Regions from separate parts of the Homo sapiens genome. Here region 2 is linked to region 1. The links come from fine-mapping of genetic effects on plasma protein levels. A gene starts in region 1. The other region holds a variant in brackets. All regions are shown on one strand. Distances are from middle to middle. Region 1 holds the start of ST3GAL6 (ST3 beta-galactoside alpha-2,3-sialyltransferase 6). Region 2 overlaps ST3GAL6 (ST3 beta-galactoside alpha-2,3-sialyltransferase 6).

The links. A credible set is the group of variants that fine-mapping cannot tell apart. PIP is the chance, under the fine-mapping model, that this variant and not a neighbour inherited with it causes the effect. Sun 2018 read protein levels with aptamers (SomaScan).
Region 2: its variant is the best candidate, but not a certain one, in a credible set for the plasma level of the ST3GAL6 protein (Sun 2018, PIP 0.86).

What each region holds. Positions count from the first base shown.
Region 1 is chr3:98,759,604-98,767,603 of GRCh38, forward strand. It overlaps ST3GAL6 (ST3 beta-galactoside alpha-2,3-sialyltransferase 6), which reads left to right and starts at 3,737. Exons shown (of 10, transcript NM_001323368.2): 1 at 3,737-3,836.
Region 2 is chr3:98,786,125-98,794,658 of GRCh38, forward strand. ST3GAL6 (ST3 beta-galactoside alpha-2,3-sialyltransferase 6) reads left to right here. Exons shown (of 10, transcript NM_001323368.2): 7 at 1,912-2,098; 8 at 2,202-2,339; 9 at 5,717-5,869; 10 at 7,551-8,534. The coding sequence ends at 7,637. Among named protein-coding and RNA genes, the nearest start is that of ST3GAL6, 27 kb to the left of the region's middle. The variant G/A (reference allele first, on the strand shown) is at 4,737.

The sequences.
Region 1 (8,000 bases):
AGTTTTTTTTTTTTAAACTTTTCAAAATCCTGGCTGCCTCTTCTGTAGTATGATACGTAAGTCCTCACTGTGTCTAAATGCCCCCAACTCTTGCGGTCTTCCCAGCTCTAAGATCTGTAATTCTTGGGTTCAAGTTGTAAATTGCAATAATTGGAAATGTTGTAAATATGTGGCCAATGATTCAGTTGGCACTTAGGTGAATCAGAAGGAGATGCAAGATAAGGTGTGTGTCCTATAGCTGTAATGTGAATGGAGGAATCCTACATATTTTCCCTCAAAAATACTGGTAGTATCATACTGACACTAATAGTAGATGGAAGGATGAGACTGAAAATAATACAGGAAAGACAGTGTCCAGGGAATTAAAAACAAAAAACAAAAAACAAAAAACCCCACAAACATTCCCTAGAGTGGTGAGGGAAATTTTTCTCAAAGCCACTTATTTTCAAAGGGAATCTGACTAGTTTCTTCAGAGAAACTTCTGTTGATTGAAAACTTTCAAAGGTCAAGCCCTAAAGACTCTTAAAAGATGTAGCATAAAACTTAGAATGAGCTGCCAGTTCCCCTCAAAAACTGTTTTCTGTGAAGCCCTGATCTTCTCGGCTGGATACAATTCCTTTTTTCTCTGACCTTCTCCAGCAGTGCTTCTCAAACACACAGATCACATGGGGTTTGCCAAAATCCACTTGACTCAGTGGATCAAAGGTTGGAGCTGAGACTCTGCAGCTCTACCAACTTCCCAGGTGATGCCAGTACTGCTGGTCCATGGACCACACTTTGAATAACAGAGGTGTAAAATAGTTTGCTTTAATTCTCGTAGCAGATAATGGAAATAATTTTGAAACAGTGTAACAGCTCCTTCACCAGACTGTGAGCTCTATTCTCCATATCCTAAAGTCGAGTACGTACACATTATGAAATTCTTGATATTAATAGATAAGAGATTCTTACCTCGGTCAGTGATTTGTATTATTCAATAGCAGTAATAATTTGAACTGGTATAGGTAGGGCTTTTTTTTAAACTGAGATAAGCACCAGCATGCAATATAACTGAGATAGGCACCACAATGCAATATAAAGTTTTCATATAAAGTTAAACGTGTTTACCATATGGCCCATGAAAACGTATATCCACCCAAGAAGTTGCACTTGAATGTTTAATGCAGTTTTATTTACAATAACCAAAAATTGCAAAGAAACCAAATGTGTATTGCCTGATAAATAACTTGTGAACTGATAAATTAATTGTGGTATGACCATACAATGGGATGCTATTTAGCAACAAAAAGGAATGAACTCCTGGTACAAGCAACAACTTGAGCATTTTTTTAAAAAGTATTATGTTAATTGACAGAAGTCAGAAATAAGATATATATTATATGATTCAATTTATATGAAATTTTAGAAAAGCAAAACTATAGTGATAGCAGATCAGGCTGCTAGGGGCCAGGAAGTGGGAAGAAGGAAGTGACTACAAAGAGGAACAAAGGAACTTTTGAGGTTGATGACAATGTTTAGAATCATGACTTCAGTGGTTGTTACCTGATACACTTAAAAGTGGCGAATTTTAGTGTATAAAAATTTTATCCCCAGCTACTCAGGAGGCTGAGGCAGGAGGATTACTTGAGCCCAGAAGTTAGAGACCAGGCTGGACAGTATAGTGAGACCCTGTCTCAAAAAAAGGAAAAAAATGAATAAAGGCAATTTTAAAAATTACACACAGGCTGGGCATGGTGGCTGATGCCTGTAATCCCAGCACTTTGGGAGGCCGAGGTGGGTGGATCACTTGAGGTTAGGAGTTCGAGACCAGCCTGGCCAACATGGCAAAACCCCATCTCTATTAAAAATACAAAGAATTAGCCAGGCATGGTGGCACGTGCCTATAGTCCCAGCTACTTGGGAGGCTGAAGCAGGAGAAATTGCTTGAACCCGGGTGGTGGAGGTTGCAGTGAGCCAAGATTGCATCACTACACTTCAGCCTGGGCAACAGAGCAAGACTCCATCTCAAAAAAAAAAAAAAAAAGTAGCCACAGTCATCAACCTGTTAACAACATCTAATGCTTCTTGGAAGCTGATATCTTATTAGCAGGATGTTAATAAGAGAATACAGGGACAATTTTTACTTTAAGAGAATAAATGGGCATGGAAAGAAAATGTGAATAAACAGTAGGAACAAAAGAAGTTCCCTAAAAGCTTACTTGTGTACTTGCAATGGACCTGAGTCTGAAGAGAGAGCTCTTGAAAACAGGAACTCCAGTTCTTCTATTTTTAGCATCCCATATAGTTGCTATTAGCTGAATGATTTTAGTGTGTCCTGTTGTGCTATTAAAGAAGAAAATTCTGCTGAGAAGTCATTTCTCTCCTTTTTATATTCTTTGCAGTGAGCACACCCCACTTTCAGGAGAGGATCTGGTCATCTGCTTTGGCAGAAGGCTTATCTTTAATTAAGTGAAAAGATCTGTCTACATGTGCTAAGGACAGTGAAAGCACTGGTGAAAGCACTGGCTTTGTTGAAAAGCTGAAAGAGAAGGGTGTTTGTGCATATGCATGTCGGAACCAGCTTCATATCATTGTATTAGCAGAAGAGTTGGGGGAGGAGAGGGAAAGAAAGTTAATTATACGTGTTCCCTTTCTGCAATGCAGAAAGAAAATAGTTATATTCTTAGAAATCAGTCAAAATGTATACAGCTGATCTAATTTGTTGACACTACACAACTCAATATTTTTGGAGGGGGGCATAAATCAGATTTTCTGTTAATTTACTCAGCAATGTCAGAGTTTTTTTCTTAACTTGTATTAAATAGCATTAGTTTATAACTTCAGATTAAATTTAGCCTTTTCGTTGTAATATTGTATGTTTAAAAAATCTATATGTGCTGTTTTTTATTTCTTTAATTATGGTCTATTGAGAATTTCGTCATCCTTCTAGCAGAAAATCCCATCAACCAGACTACTGATTCCTTAGGATTTCTCTCTTTAATTATGAGATTAATAGCTTTTCATATTATAATGTTTCTAAAGAAGTGTGTTTGATAAATGCATAATTTAATGTGTATCATCCCCTTGTTTTATTTTTAAAAGATATTATTAAATGATTATTTAACAGTTCATACTCTTAAAAATATGGTTATTATAGTTTTCTATAAGCCACAATTTCAAAGTGTGGGCTTTGAAATCAGATCTCAGTTTGAATTCTGGCCAGTGCTCTGGGTATTAAACATATCTAGCATGGGGATGAAAATATCCGTGATTTCATCCTTATGTGAAAAAGGGCTTAGTACTGTGCTGGCCATTTAGTAAGTGGTTAATAAACTGTGCTATCATTTACATGATCATCGCTGCCAGAGGTTGTAGATCCTTGGGATATGAATGAAGCTGATCTCACGCATTTGGACTACCTAATTAGTAATAAGGACCAAACCTAAAAGAGAGGTAGTAAATGAATTGAGGAGGACTGAGGCCTTTCCATTCATCACTGTGGAGTCCTGTACATTAAGGCTCAGGTCATATGGAGATGGCTGGGTCTGTGAGGCTTAGGCTTAGGGGACCTATGAGGCTGGACCAAAAAAAATCTAGACATTAATGCATGGCTAGAGTTGGAGGTTCTGTTGTAGATTTGCTCATGTAGGCATGTGACTGCAGATTATAATCACAAATTGAGTAATAAGTACAAAGAGGAAGGAAGGCAGGATGTGAAATCTGTTGGCCATGTTCCACACAGTCTGGAGTGTATGTCAGTGTGAGCTGAAGACCAGCAGAGACTAGGATGGATGACGGCCTGTCCAGGGGCTGAATGGACACAGGTGTCAGCAGGGCCACCTGGTAAAGGTATGGAGGTGAGCCATGAACAAGGTTACCTGCTTAAGGGGAAGGTTGTGGCTTAAATCTAGATGCTGCTGAGATATTAGACATTAGGTGCCCACAGGCTGTGTGGAGGTAGAAGGGGGATGTGCTTCTCTTATTTGCACAAAGATGTGAGTTACTGAGGAGTATTATTGAACAGCAGCATGTTGGGTTTGAGAAGAGACCTAGTAGTAGAAAGAGTAGTATGTCTGCCACTGAGGAAGCAGGGAACAGAAGGGTGCCTCACCCCAGGGCAGATGGGGACATGGTTTAGGATCCTAGTGACTAAAAAAAAAAAAAAAAAAATGGAAGTTTGGCTGCAGAGCTGCTAGGGTGACTAGGAAAGAGAAGAATGCAGACGTTGGAAAAGTGTGGTATAGTTTAAGCACCCAGCAGCAGGAACCCAGGTCCAGTGGATGAGATGACCAGGATCACTACTGGATCCACAGGAACCTGACCCAACTGTTAAGCTGCTAGTCGAGGGCTCCTCAGACTCTCTTTCTGTGGGTCAGAATCAGTCCCAGTGCCTGGGGTGGCTGGGCTTGCAGATGGGCATTAGGAAGCACCTGCTTCCAGACTGAAACAGAACTGGGGATGGAGGAGACAGGGAGGTGAGGTTTGTGTGTGCTCAGCATCCGGAATAGAGAACGCCAAGGGTCTTTCTTCCTTGGTGTTGCATATTGACTGAGATACCCACCGGGTTTTTCTATTAGGTTGGTTTTAAATGACAAAAACCACAATTACTTTTGCACTAACCTAATGCTTGATAAGTAGAACAATGTTTCTAGAATTATTGCTGAACATGCTTTTTTCTAGCTGGTTGGAAAAGCAAGCTCCCTTTGGTTTGAGAAAGCATTAGGGGAGTCTAAAAAAAAACCTGACATTTTTTTCAAGTGTTTCTCCGTAGAGTTTGTTTTTATAAACAATGCTAGCATGGTTGGGAGGAGCAGAACTGGGAACAGGGTTGGGAGTAACAGGCTTTTATTTCAGCTGAGTTTGAATCAAAAGTATTATAAGCTTTACCTCCATTTCATCAATTACTAGAATTGATATTGCTTAAGGAGCTTGCAGGATTGCTTAAGTTGGAGAAATGTTCAGTAATGTTTAGTCTGGTAGCAAAAGGAGGGGCCTGTGCTCACTTGTGAAAGCTCACATCTAGGGGGAGGTAGTATAACGCATGGCCTGTGGCCTGATAGAGACAGATTTGAGTCCTCGTTCTGCTACTTGTCAGCTCAACAAAGTCGTTGCTTCTCCCAGAGTTTTGGTTTCCTCCTCTACAAAATAGGAATTGTAAGTCTACCACTTCTTTTGCAAGGTGGTTGTCAGGATGTCATGAGGTAATACACCAAAAGCAATTATCACATGCCTTGGCACAGGCTAAGCACTCATACATCTTAATGCTTCTAATCAGTTGTTATTCATTGAGCATTTACCACGTGCTAGGCATTTAGGGTAAAAAAAAATAATACAAAGCATCTAGTTATGGGATCTGTATCTGTTACAGTCTCTGTATTTCAGAAATTCTTCCATGGTTCTATTGTATTTCTTAGAGCAGTGATTCTCAAAATTTTAGTGTGCATAAGAATCAAATTGGTGGATGCTGTTTAAATGCACATTCCTGAGCCCCAGAGATTCAGATTAAGTAGAGGCTCAGGAGTGTGCATGTTAACAAGTCCCCGCCTGGTGCAGACTCTTGAGCCTGCCCTAGAGTCACCTCCTTTCACCAATATCTGAATTTACCCTTCTAGACTTCAAGATACCAATGGAACACCATTAGGAATTTTCAGATTAGAATTATCTCTTTTAGATTTGCCTTGTGCTTTTTATCTTGAGAGACAGGATAACACCAGGAATGGAACTCTGAGAAAGAAATGATTGAACCATAAATCTATTTCTGTCTTCCTTAAACTGTGTGACCTCAGACAACTCAACCTTATAAACCTTCAGTTTTCCTCATTCATCAAGAAGACAACACCTGCACACCCATCTAACAAGCTTATTTTGAGCCTTAAATGGAGGGATGGACATATAAAAGATTTTTTATGAACTTTGATGCTCCACACAAAATATGCTTTTACTATTAAAGCAAAGTGAAACATTTGTCAAGATTGAGTTTAATTTGGCATATATAGGTTACTTATACATTGGGTTACATATCTTAGTTGGAGAATATGTGAACATTTGTCCTCTGCCAGTGAGTCCTTCTTTCCCTTGCCATCCTCTACCCACATTTTTGTAAAGGATGTTTTAGGGACCCTGATTTTAGGAGCATCTGCAGCCACAAAGCTGGCATTGGTCCTGTTTAATGTCAAGATCTTGAAAACTCTTTTTTTTGGTAATCAAAGCTATATTAAAGGGCCTTATGTCTTTTTAAAAGCAGATAACCTCTTAAATTCTGTTTTTTTCTTTGAATGTTTTTGCTCAAAGCAAAATGCCCTTCCACTTATACAATATAATTAGATAATTGGTTTATTTGTGGAAGCTTTTTCCTGTGAGCAAGCAGAGGAACCATGTTTATCACAAGGATATCCTGGCTGGCCCGTGTCCTTTGCAACTTGAATACTGAAGCTGTGAATTGTACATGAAATACGATAGTGCCTTAACTTCCTAAATGTTTTTCAGGTGGCGTGTGCAGTAGCTGTTCAAGAGTGGGTTCGTTTTATTGTTTGAAAACAGAGCATTCTCTCACACTTCTTTGTTTTTAATTAGACCACATATTAGTGAATGAAAAACAACAAAACAATAACACAAGTCTCGCTTACCCATACCTCCGTGTTCTGTAGAATAATACATAAATTGCCCAAAGAGTATGTTTTGGAGAATACATAGGAATTTTGACTTGTAAATACTGACTTCTTTCCCTAGACCTTCATATACTGTCTTAGATGTAAATACATTAAAAAATTTTGCTGATACTGGTAAGTTTTATCCTTGTTGGATCTTTGCATAAATGTCATTCTTTTTTTTTTTTTTTTTTTTTTTTTTTTTTTTGGGAAAGGGAGTCTCACTCTGTCGCCCAGGCTGGAGTGCAGTGGCGTGATCTCGGCTCACTGCAACCTCTGCCTCTTGGGTTCAAGCAATTCTCTGCCTTAGCCTCCTGAATGGGTGGGATTGCAGGTGCCTGCCATCACGCCCGGCTAATTTTTTTGCATTTTTAGTAGAGACGGTGTTTCACCATCTTGGCCAGGTTGGTATTGAACTCCTGACCTCGTGATCCACCTGCCTCAGCCTCCCAAAGTGCTGGGATTACAGGCATGAGCCACTGCGCCCAGCCAAATGAAGTTATTCTTAGTGGAGCCTTAAATGTTTGATTTGAGCATTTAATAAGATGTTCCTCACTATTTTGGCCCATGGTAAACTGCCTTCCAGGACCATCTAATAACCCAAAGAGGTAGATGGTGTGTTCTCACTTGTAAACACATGAGGACCCTCAGGTCAGAAGAGGTAGACTGATTTACCTTAGGGTCCCCACACCATATGTAGAGTTAGGCTGTGAATCTTGTCTTCTGATTTCCAACCAGTGTTGACTCTTCACAGGGATTATGTATACCTAATTAGAAGTATGTGTGAACTAAAGTTTGCTCATTAACTTGCTTATTTATTTGCTTTCTCCTGACATAGTTTTCATTTCTAACTAATTTAGAATAGTGGCATGTGGGGGTGGTGACTGCATTAATAGCAGCAAGAACCAACAGCTGACAGCAAGGGAGGAGTGAAAAGCAACTCAACCAGATAATCATGCCAGTTTAGGACTGCTTAGCAAATAGCCCCACACACCCATTAGCTGCAGAGGGTTTCAACTGTAAGAAAGCCCAGAACAATTATATTTGTTGAGCTGACCCCATATTATCAAGAAAAGTTTAAATTATGTTTAGTATATTCTACTTATGAAGGCAAAGGGAGTGGTTTATTTTAAGATTTCCATTTGAACATATTTACCATTAAAAAGAAGGCAATGCCATATTATTTGGAAATTTATTCAACCAGACTCCCAGGTTCTATACTGCATCGCCATGATTGAGGTTAATAGGCATGGATAGGAGTGAAAGGAGTGGCACATGCAGTTGTTTAGACGAACTAGAAACTTGATAAGGGAGACAGAGAAGCAGTGTACCTGTTTAAAGTCACAGGCGTTGAAATAGGTCTATTATGGAACC
Region 2 (8,534 bases), 27 kb after region 1:
TTGTCGAGTAGGCAGTTGGATAAACAGGTTAAAATCTTGATGGTGTGTGGCCTATAAGCTGTATTTAAACCATGGACTGGGTGAGATTTCCCAAGGAGAGACTGAGAGAGAGAGAAGAGAGTGAGGACTGAGCCTCAGAGAACTCAAAATTTAGAGGTTGAGCAAAGAAAAAGGAATGTGTAAAAGAGATGAAGAGGATCCACCAGTGAGGTAAGAAGAAAATCGGGAGAAGGTGATCACAGAAGCCAAGAGAGCAAAGTGTTCCAGGACAGAAGGAGTGACCAACTGTATCCCAGTGCTGGTGAGAGGTCATGCAAGATAAGGACAGAGTGGTGACCATTGGACTGGTGACCTGAGGCTCATTGACACTCCCAATAAAAGCAGGCTTAGAGGCGTGATGTGGCAAGAAGCCCGGCTGGACTAGGTCGAAGAGGGAATGCAGAGAATGTACACCTGAATGTACAGATGAAGATGTAGAGAAACCAATGTAGTCCAGGGATTTTGCTTCAAAGAGGAGTTGAGAAATCAGATGGCAGTTAGAGATGGTTATGCAATCAGGGTTTTTTTTTTGTTTGTTTTCTTCTTTTGAAAAGATTGGAGGCACTATAGTACATTGGTTAACTGGTGGAAATGAGAAAGAGATTGGGGTGGTAAAAGAGAGGGGAAGGGGGTTCAGAACACAAGTGTGGTTAATGTTTCATAATGGAAAGGAGAGCCAGGATTGTGGTTACAACTACCAAGAGTCCCTCTGATGTAGTGAGGGGAAAATACGGACCTTTCTATCTCTATTTTTTTAGTGAAAGGTCAAGATAAGGTCATCATCTGGGATAAGTGTGTGTGTGTGTGTGTGTGTGTGTGTGTTAGGAGTAGCTATGAATAGTTTAAAGAATGGCAAAGTTAGCATACTGAGGCAATACATTAGGATGGTTTGGCAGCTTTGGGGGTTTTGTGGGGTTACAAGCTGCCTAGGGTTTCTGCATGGTGAGGTCACCTTATTTTCTGTTTACTATCCATTTTGAGGAAGCTGTGATAATTTACCTACAAAACAATTTTGAAGCAATCACAGGTTTCTCTACCCATAATTGTCTAAATCTGATAATTTAGAGCCACAGGAAACCCTTGCAGGAAAATATCATGGGTACAACATTTTGAAAGTCATCTCAAGTGTTAATAAGTCTGTTCGTCTTATATTACGTAGAGTCAGTAGCAAAGGGCAAAACAGTATTTATCTCTTTGGGGACACTGTTTTGGAAACAAAGCATTTCTTTTTTTATAGCATGGCTTCATAATGTGTGCATAAATAGTGCATGTCCAACCTTGGCTTTCAGCATACACAAACCCAACAGTAGATCCTTTGTGGTTCTTTAGTTTACTCTAGCAATAGACATTCATTTGGTTGTGCTTGAATATAATATAGCAGATTTATATTGTTAACCTTATTTCAGAGTACAACAATTTTGATGGGTCTTTAAACCAACTTAAATGTGATTCTTCTTACCTGTCAGTCACACACATCCATGTGCTACATGACTGTGTGGCTTTGAGCAAGTAATTTTCTCTCCAGGGGTTTGTCCTCCAAGTTCTCTTTCAACTCTGGTATCCTGTGGCTCTGTGTTCCCACTTTTTTAAATTTAGTCTTCAGTTCCCCTGGAGGTAAGACTGAATTATCATTGGCTCCACAATTAATTTTCAAATACAAATGAACATTTCTGCCTTTGATCAACCAACTATTTCATGAAAAGGAATGATCTCCTTGGCCATTATGTGTGAAAGATTGATCTATTGCTTTGTGGCTTCAGAGCACAGGATAAAAGGCTGATGTTTGTCCAACTCTGAAACCTCTGAGAACTGTGATGGGAATGGCAGATACTGCACTTGGTCTACATATCTTGTATGTTTTACTATCCACAGAATGAATAATGGTCCTGTTTTAGGACATGAAGAAGAAGTTGGGAGAAGGACAACCTTCCGACTTTTTTATCCAGAATCTGTTTTTTCAGATCCTATTCACAATGACCCTAATACGACAGTGATTCTCACTGCTTTTAAGCCACATGATTTAAGGTGGCTGTTGGAATTGTTGATGGGTGACAAAATAGTAAGTAGGCAAAATTGTTCTGCCTTCAGATTACCTTTAGTGCTTTTTTTCCTTAAAAAACAGACAGCCACACTGTTCTATTCTCTATATTTTTTACTTTCAGAACACTAATGGTTTTTGGAAGAAACCAGCCTTAAACCTGATTTATAAACCTTATCAAATCCGAATATTAGATCCTTTCATTATCAGAACAGCAGCTTATGAACTGCTTCATTTTCCAAAAGTGTTTCCCAAAAATCAGGTATGTATTTATCTCTGCATGGTTTCAAACTACAGATCTGGCTGAGGTAGGATAGAGGGTCCTGGGAACTCTCAGAAACTGTATGAGAACCACAGCTCATGAGATGATTTCTGAGGGCCATCTCTGAGTTAGTAAAAGTAGTTATCTATGGATATTATCTTTATGTTTTTCATTTATGTTGCAAGGAAATGTAATTTTAAGTTGGGTTTTTTTCCTGCCCTTGTAGGGCCTTCCTGGGGTCTCTTTGTGCATGCCGAAACAATTTATCTTTCATAACTCTGTCTTCAGTGTTCTGCAGTGAGGAGAGTCTGACTGGGTGGGCTGACGGGCAGGCTTGTGCTCAGAGTAGCTGGCCTGGCTTCAGGCCAAGTGCATGGCTTTGCAGGCTAAAAAGAAGTGTCTGAGATGCTCTGATAAAAATATCACAGGAAAGCCAGAGGAAAGGTGAGGAAGGACAATAAAGTAGTCCAGAAACATTTCTGTGGTCAGAGGAAATGTTGGCATTAAATTCTCAAGAAATGGTAGCTACAGCAATATTGAAAGAGTTCTTGAAACTTCAAAATGAAATCTCATTGACTTTCACTCCTGTTTGCCTTCTTTCCCTAGAAAACAATACTCTAGACCCATACAGTGGCAGAGATATTTTTTACTGGAAGCTTGAGTAACTGTATAACATGACACCTTGGTTGAAATGAGTTTTTCACCCCTTTTTAAAGTAGGGAAAAATCCAAAGAAATAAATATACATCATGTATTTTCATGATGTATATTTAGCATGATAAGAATTGTGATTAAGAAATTCAAAAGTGTTATATGCTGAAAACAAATGTTAGTGTTGCACACTGAAATAAAGGAATATTAAAAATCAAAAAGGAAGTCACCAGTCTATTCTCTTCCCTCTACAACCCATGTAACCTCTCAAGCTTTTCTACCTTTTATGTGCTTCCAGACTATTTGCTATGCATTCATAAACACATAATCTTTTTGTTTGTTCAGTATAATTATGATTATACCATAGGTATTGTTGTTATTTTCTTTTTTCTCTTTATTTAACTCTTCCCCTATTTATAGACACTCAGATATATCCAACATTTTCTTCTCTTTAAATAATATAGCAGTACATGTGTTTATAGGGGTTTTCTGCCCATTTGTCGGATTTCTGTAGGATGGACTTCTGGAAGTGGAATGCTCAAGTCAAAAAGCATACATGTTTTAAATTTAAACCTGACTTCCTAGTAATTTTGAGGGTAAAGGACAGCTTCTGAATGTGTGTTTTGTGAGTTTTCACTTCCTATATTCCTAAGTGAAGTATGATCAGGTATATCTCTTGCTTCTTCATTTTAGGTAATATCTTTAATTCCAAAAGCACAGGAAGACCCTGAGCATACTTAGTGATGACATTAGAACTAGCTGTAGCTACATCAAAGTCCCAGTAGGACATGGTGTCCCAGAAATCAAATGCTGTATTTCAAGAGAAGTCAGCCATGTCAGATGCTGTCCAGAGGTTGAATGTAAATAATAAACCCTGGTTTTAGAAACGTGGAGGTCATATTGGTGATATATATTAACAAGAAAGAAGGAAAAAGCCTGCTTGAATTGGGTTGAAGAGAACCTGGGACATGAGCAAGCAGCAACAAATCTTTAGTGGACTTTTTGCTAGAACAAGGATCGTAGAAATGAAGCAATAGTTGGAAGATGATATAGGATCGAAGAAGCGTGTTTTATTTTTGGTCTGTGTATATGCTGAAGGGAATGGTTCAGCAGAAAGAAACACTGATGATGAGGGGAGAAAGTAGTTAAGTACAGAAGTAAAATTGTTGAGAAGTGATATGGGATAAAATATACACTAGTGAAAAGTTGCTGAAGTTACATCTCATCCATTATAAGAGGAATAAGCACTGCAAATGTGAGTAAAGATACAGGTAAGATGGTAGATTTGGAGTTGGGATGATGAAGCCACTCTTTTGACTGCTTTTGTTTCCTTAAAAAAATAAAGATTAACTAGTCAAATTAGGAAGAAGACTAGGGCTGTTGCAGGATACAAAGTTATAAATTCTCATCTTGGAGAGTAGGAATGGAAATTTACTAGTCAAACGTAACTGGATTGCTAGGCAATACTTACTGCCTGTTTGAGAGTTGGGTCATAAATTCAACATTCAACCAGGTAAACGTATTTTTCTCTTGCCCTATTCTGTTGCTGGGGTGTGGGTACAGGGTGACTGCAGTGCTTATTCCTCTTATAAGAGTTTGTCAGGTGGTAATATAGGTTCTGTGGGTGATGGCTGCAGAAGAGCTGGTCTATATAAAGGAATGGTTATAAAGACGGATGAAGGACTCTTAAGATGTGAAGAAAGGAAGTAGAAGACATGAAAAGGGGCAAGGAGAAGGAAAAAGCAAT[G/A]GGATCAATGAGGCTGAATGACTCCTAGGTTACAATGGTACATAGGATAAAGAAAATTTTATGCTGAAGGCAGTTAATGCTTTCGGACAAGTTTGCCTCCTGGAATTGATTTGGTTGTGCTTCTTCGATTTTTTTTTCTTTTCCTCAAAATCATAGTAAGTCATATGTAATTTCAATGGGAACTATAAGAAACACTTTATTGAAAGTGTTATGTAAAAAGCTTAAGATGTATCTTGTTTTTCGCTTTGAAGGCCATCTCAGTGAGAATTACAATTTCTGAAAGCCAAGACCCTCTTGTCAAATATCTATCACACTGGTTTTCAAGATATATGTAAGATAAGGAAAGAGGATGCTTGGTTTTTCTTTCTAAAAGTATAATGGTGCAGCTGAGATTGTGATATTGCTATGTATGCATTTGGAATATTTATTTTCTAGTCAGATACTGTTACAATTTATCATTGAAGTACTAGATTAGCCTTTCCCTAGAGTTAGTTTAAATGGTGAGTATAAAATATAGCTATTCGAAGGCGAATTTATATGAAGTCTTTTATCATGATTCCATCCGTTTGTGAATGAAGCTGTCCTTATATTTCATACACGTGTTCAAAATTCCCAGGCTTTGCTTTTGCCATAAGGAGCCTGACTCATCATGTTTTTGTGTTTTTTAAAACAATACAGCAACATTCTCTTCCTTAAGCCTCACAGTATTCTTTCATTGGATAGTTGTCCTCTGGGCTAATACCACAGCTATATTTTATTTTAAAGACTTCCTAAGATTTCAATCACAGTTTATATATTTTTTAGAGTTAAGGTATATATGCATACTCTTTGGGGCTTGAGCCTTATAATGAGAGTTTAGTTATTTCTCTCCTTATTAAATGTTTAGAAATCCCTGTTTTATATGATTCAGCCAACCAAATATGCTTTGGTAACAAGTAGCTCCTTTTGCTTAAAAAAGTTTTTTTCATCCCCTCCCCCAGAAACCTAAACACCCAACAACAGGAATTATTGCCATCACATTGGCGTTTTACATATGTCACGAAGTTCACCTAGCTGGTTTTAAATACAACTTTTCTGACCTCAAGAGTCCTTTGCACTACTATGGGAATGCCACCATGTCTTTGATGAATAAGGTAATATACTGTACTTTAGGTAATATACATATGCTTTGGACTAATCTTTGAGGGATGGAAAGCCCATATTTTCTCTTCTCACACTCATTTTACTGAGGGACCACGTTTTGAAGGGTTGAGGGCTTGATGGTGATTACAGGGCTACCAAGGGCTGTAACTAGAACTCATGTCCAGGATCATTTTACTACAGCATGAAATCCCAATTTATGGGCCTCATGGTTATTGCCAAGTGTCATCAAACCCATATAAGTACAGAACCTTACTTTAGATATTATATTTGCACTATTGAAATTCAGGCAACCTGCTGTGTTTGAGATATTACAAATTCACCTTGCATTGCTGTGCTTAATTATTCTCATTTGTTTTTAAGTAGACAAGATGGTGTAGAATATTTTAACCCTACAAGAGAATCTTCATGATCAAAAAGGTTACCAACTTTCATACTGGATCACACTTCTCTTGAATAGGGATTAATAGTGAGGATTTGTATTTTATTTTTTTTAACAATTTTAGTTTAAATTTTTTTTTTTTTTTTGAGAGTCTCACTCTGTCACCCAGGCTGGAGTGCACTGGCATGATCTCGGCTTACTGCAACCTGCACCCCGCAGGTTGAAGTGATTCTCCTGCTTCAGTCTCCCTAGTTTCTGGGATAACAGGCGCCCGCCACCACGACCGGCTAATTTTTTTTTTTTTTTTTTGTATTTTTGTAGAGATGAGTTTTTGCCATGTTGGCCAGGCTGGTCTCGAACTCCTGGCCTCATGTGATCTGCCCGCCTTAGCCTCCCAGAGTGCTGGGATTACAGGCATGGGCCACTGTGCCTGGCTAAGGATTTGTAATTTACTTGACTGGGAAGGAGTTTCCTAGTTTTGTAATTCTAACTTAAATTAGTAGTGCATCACAAGTGATGGGATTAAAATGTTATCTGTATACTTTTAATATTGAAATATTACTTGATAAAAAGTATATGGATATATCTCATGAAATCAGTCCCCTTGAATCACCCCACTATATAAGCTGAGAAAGTGGTATAAATCAGGTTAGATTTAGTATTGTCTTTTGTCCCTCACCCCCACCCTCTGTCCCCACCAGGTAAGACAAGCACTTAAGTATTTCAAGAATGAGGTACCCCAACAGACTTTGGATTAGGCTGATTTCTCCTCCGCCCTAAACTTTCCTGTAGCACTTGTGGTATTTCAAGTGTCATCTAAAGAGCAGAATATTAAAACAACTTCCTCAGGAAGAAAACTTGGATATTCATGTATAGAACAGTAATTTTTAACACATCTTAAACTGAACCAGGCATTATAATAGTTTATCTCCAGGCTGATTTTGTTTGTTTTTAAACTGATTTCTAGGGGCTTCTTCCATTAAAGTGAACAACTCAAAATTTTGGTCTCCAGATTTGTATTGTACCATGATTCGGTCTACCAGGGTTTGATATGAAGGAGTCTTACTTATGTGAGAGTTGAAATGGAAAGAGTGGGCTGTAGGGAAAGCTTTTGCACAAGAACCAGCAAGGAAAGTAATTTAAAAGGCTATCAAAAGTTAAAAGTACATGCAACTCGTTACTTAACATTCGAGTTCTTTATTCGGATTTTTTTAGATATAAAGTACTCCATTGGTGCTGCTAATACTTTGAGATTGGGAAAGAATGATGGTAATTGTATTTTTCTTCTTTAGAACGCGTATCACAATGTGACTGCAGAGCAGCTCTTTTTGAAGGACATTATAGAAAAAAACCTCGTAATCAACTTGACTCAAGATTGACTCTACAGACTCAGAAGATGATGCTAACAGTGTTAGTTTTATTTTTGTACTGCAATTTTTAGTTTAAAATATGTTGGATGCACTCGTCAAATAATTATGTATACTGTCTGTTGCTGCCTGGTGATTCATAACCACCAGCTTAATTTCTGTGAATACTGTATATTTAACTTATGAAAACCAAGAAATGTAAAGATAACAGGAAAATAAGTTTTGATTGCATTGTTTTTAAAATAAGCTAGTTTTCTGAGGTGTTTTCACACGTCTTTTTATAGTTACTTCATCTTAGATTTTTGAAGGGATATGACTTCCTACTAAGGATTTAGTTTACCACAACAATTCTGACTACAATAAGACATTTTGAGGAGGATATTTGGCTACTGTAAACATGGCTGGTGGAAAATCACGATTGTGGCTTGATGTGGCAAGCCGAAACCACTTGGCTCTGGAAATCTAAGTTCATACTGGTTTAATTAAGCTCTCTCCTGACAACCCCCAGAATTAAATGAACCATGATTGTGAAGAGTAATTTGGTACAATGAAGGCAGTGTTTGTTTTTAAGTTAAAGGAAATGGGCTAAACATAAAGTTCTTATTAGATAAGTAAATAACTAAAGAAAGAATACAATTACTAAACTCTGATGGCTTTGTATTATTTTAAAGAAATGAAGTTTAACTTTATACAGTGAAGCTAAGCTAGGCAAGCTCAAGAAGGAAAAAAAAATCTTGAACATTATTTTTTTTTGCCTGACTTACTTATTCATTAAATTTTGAAGGTTTTCCACTTGAAGTAAATTAGGAAAGGTAAAGAAGATAACAGAACAAGTAAACACTTAAGAAAAGTCAAGCTGAGGCCGGGCAGGGTGGCTCACACCTGTAATCCTAACAAACACTTTGGGAG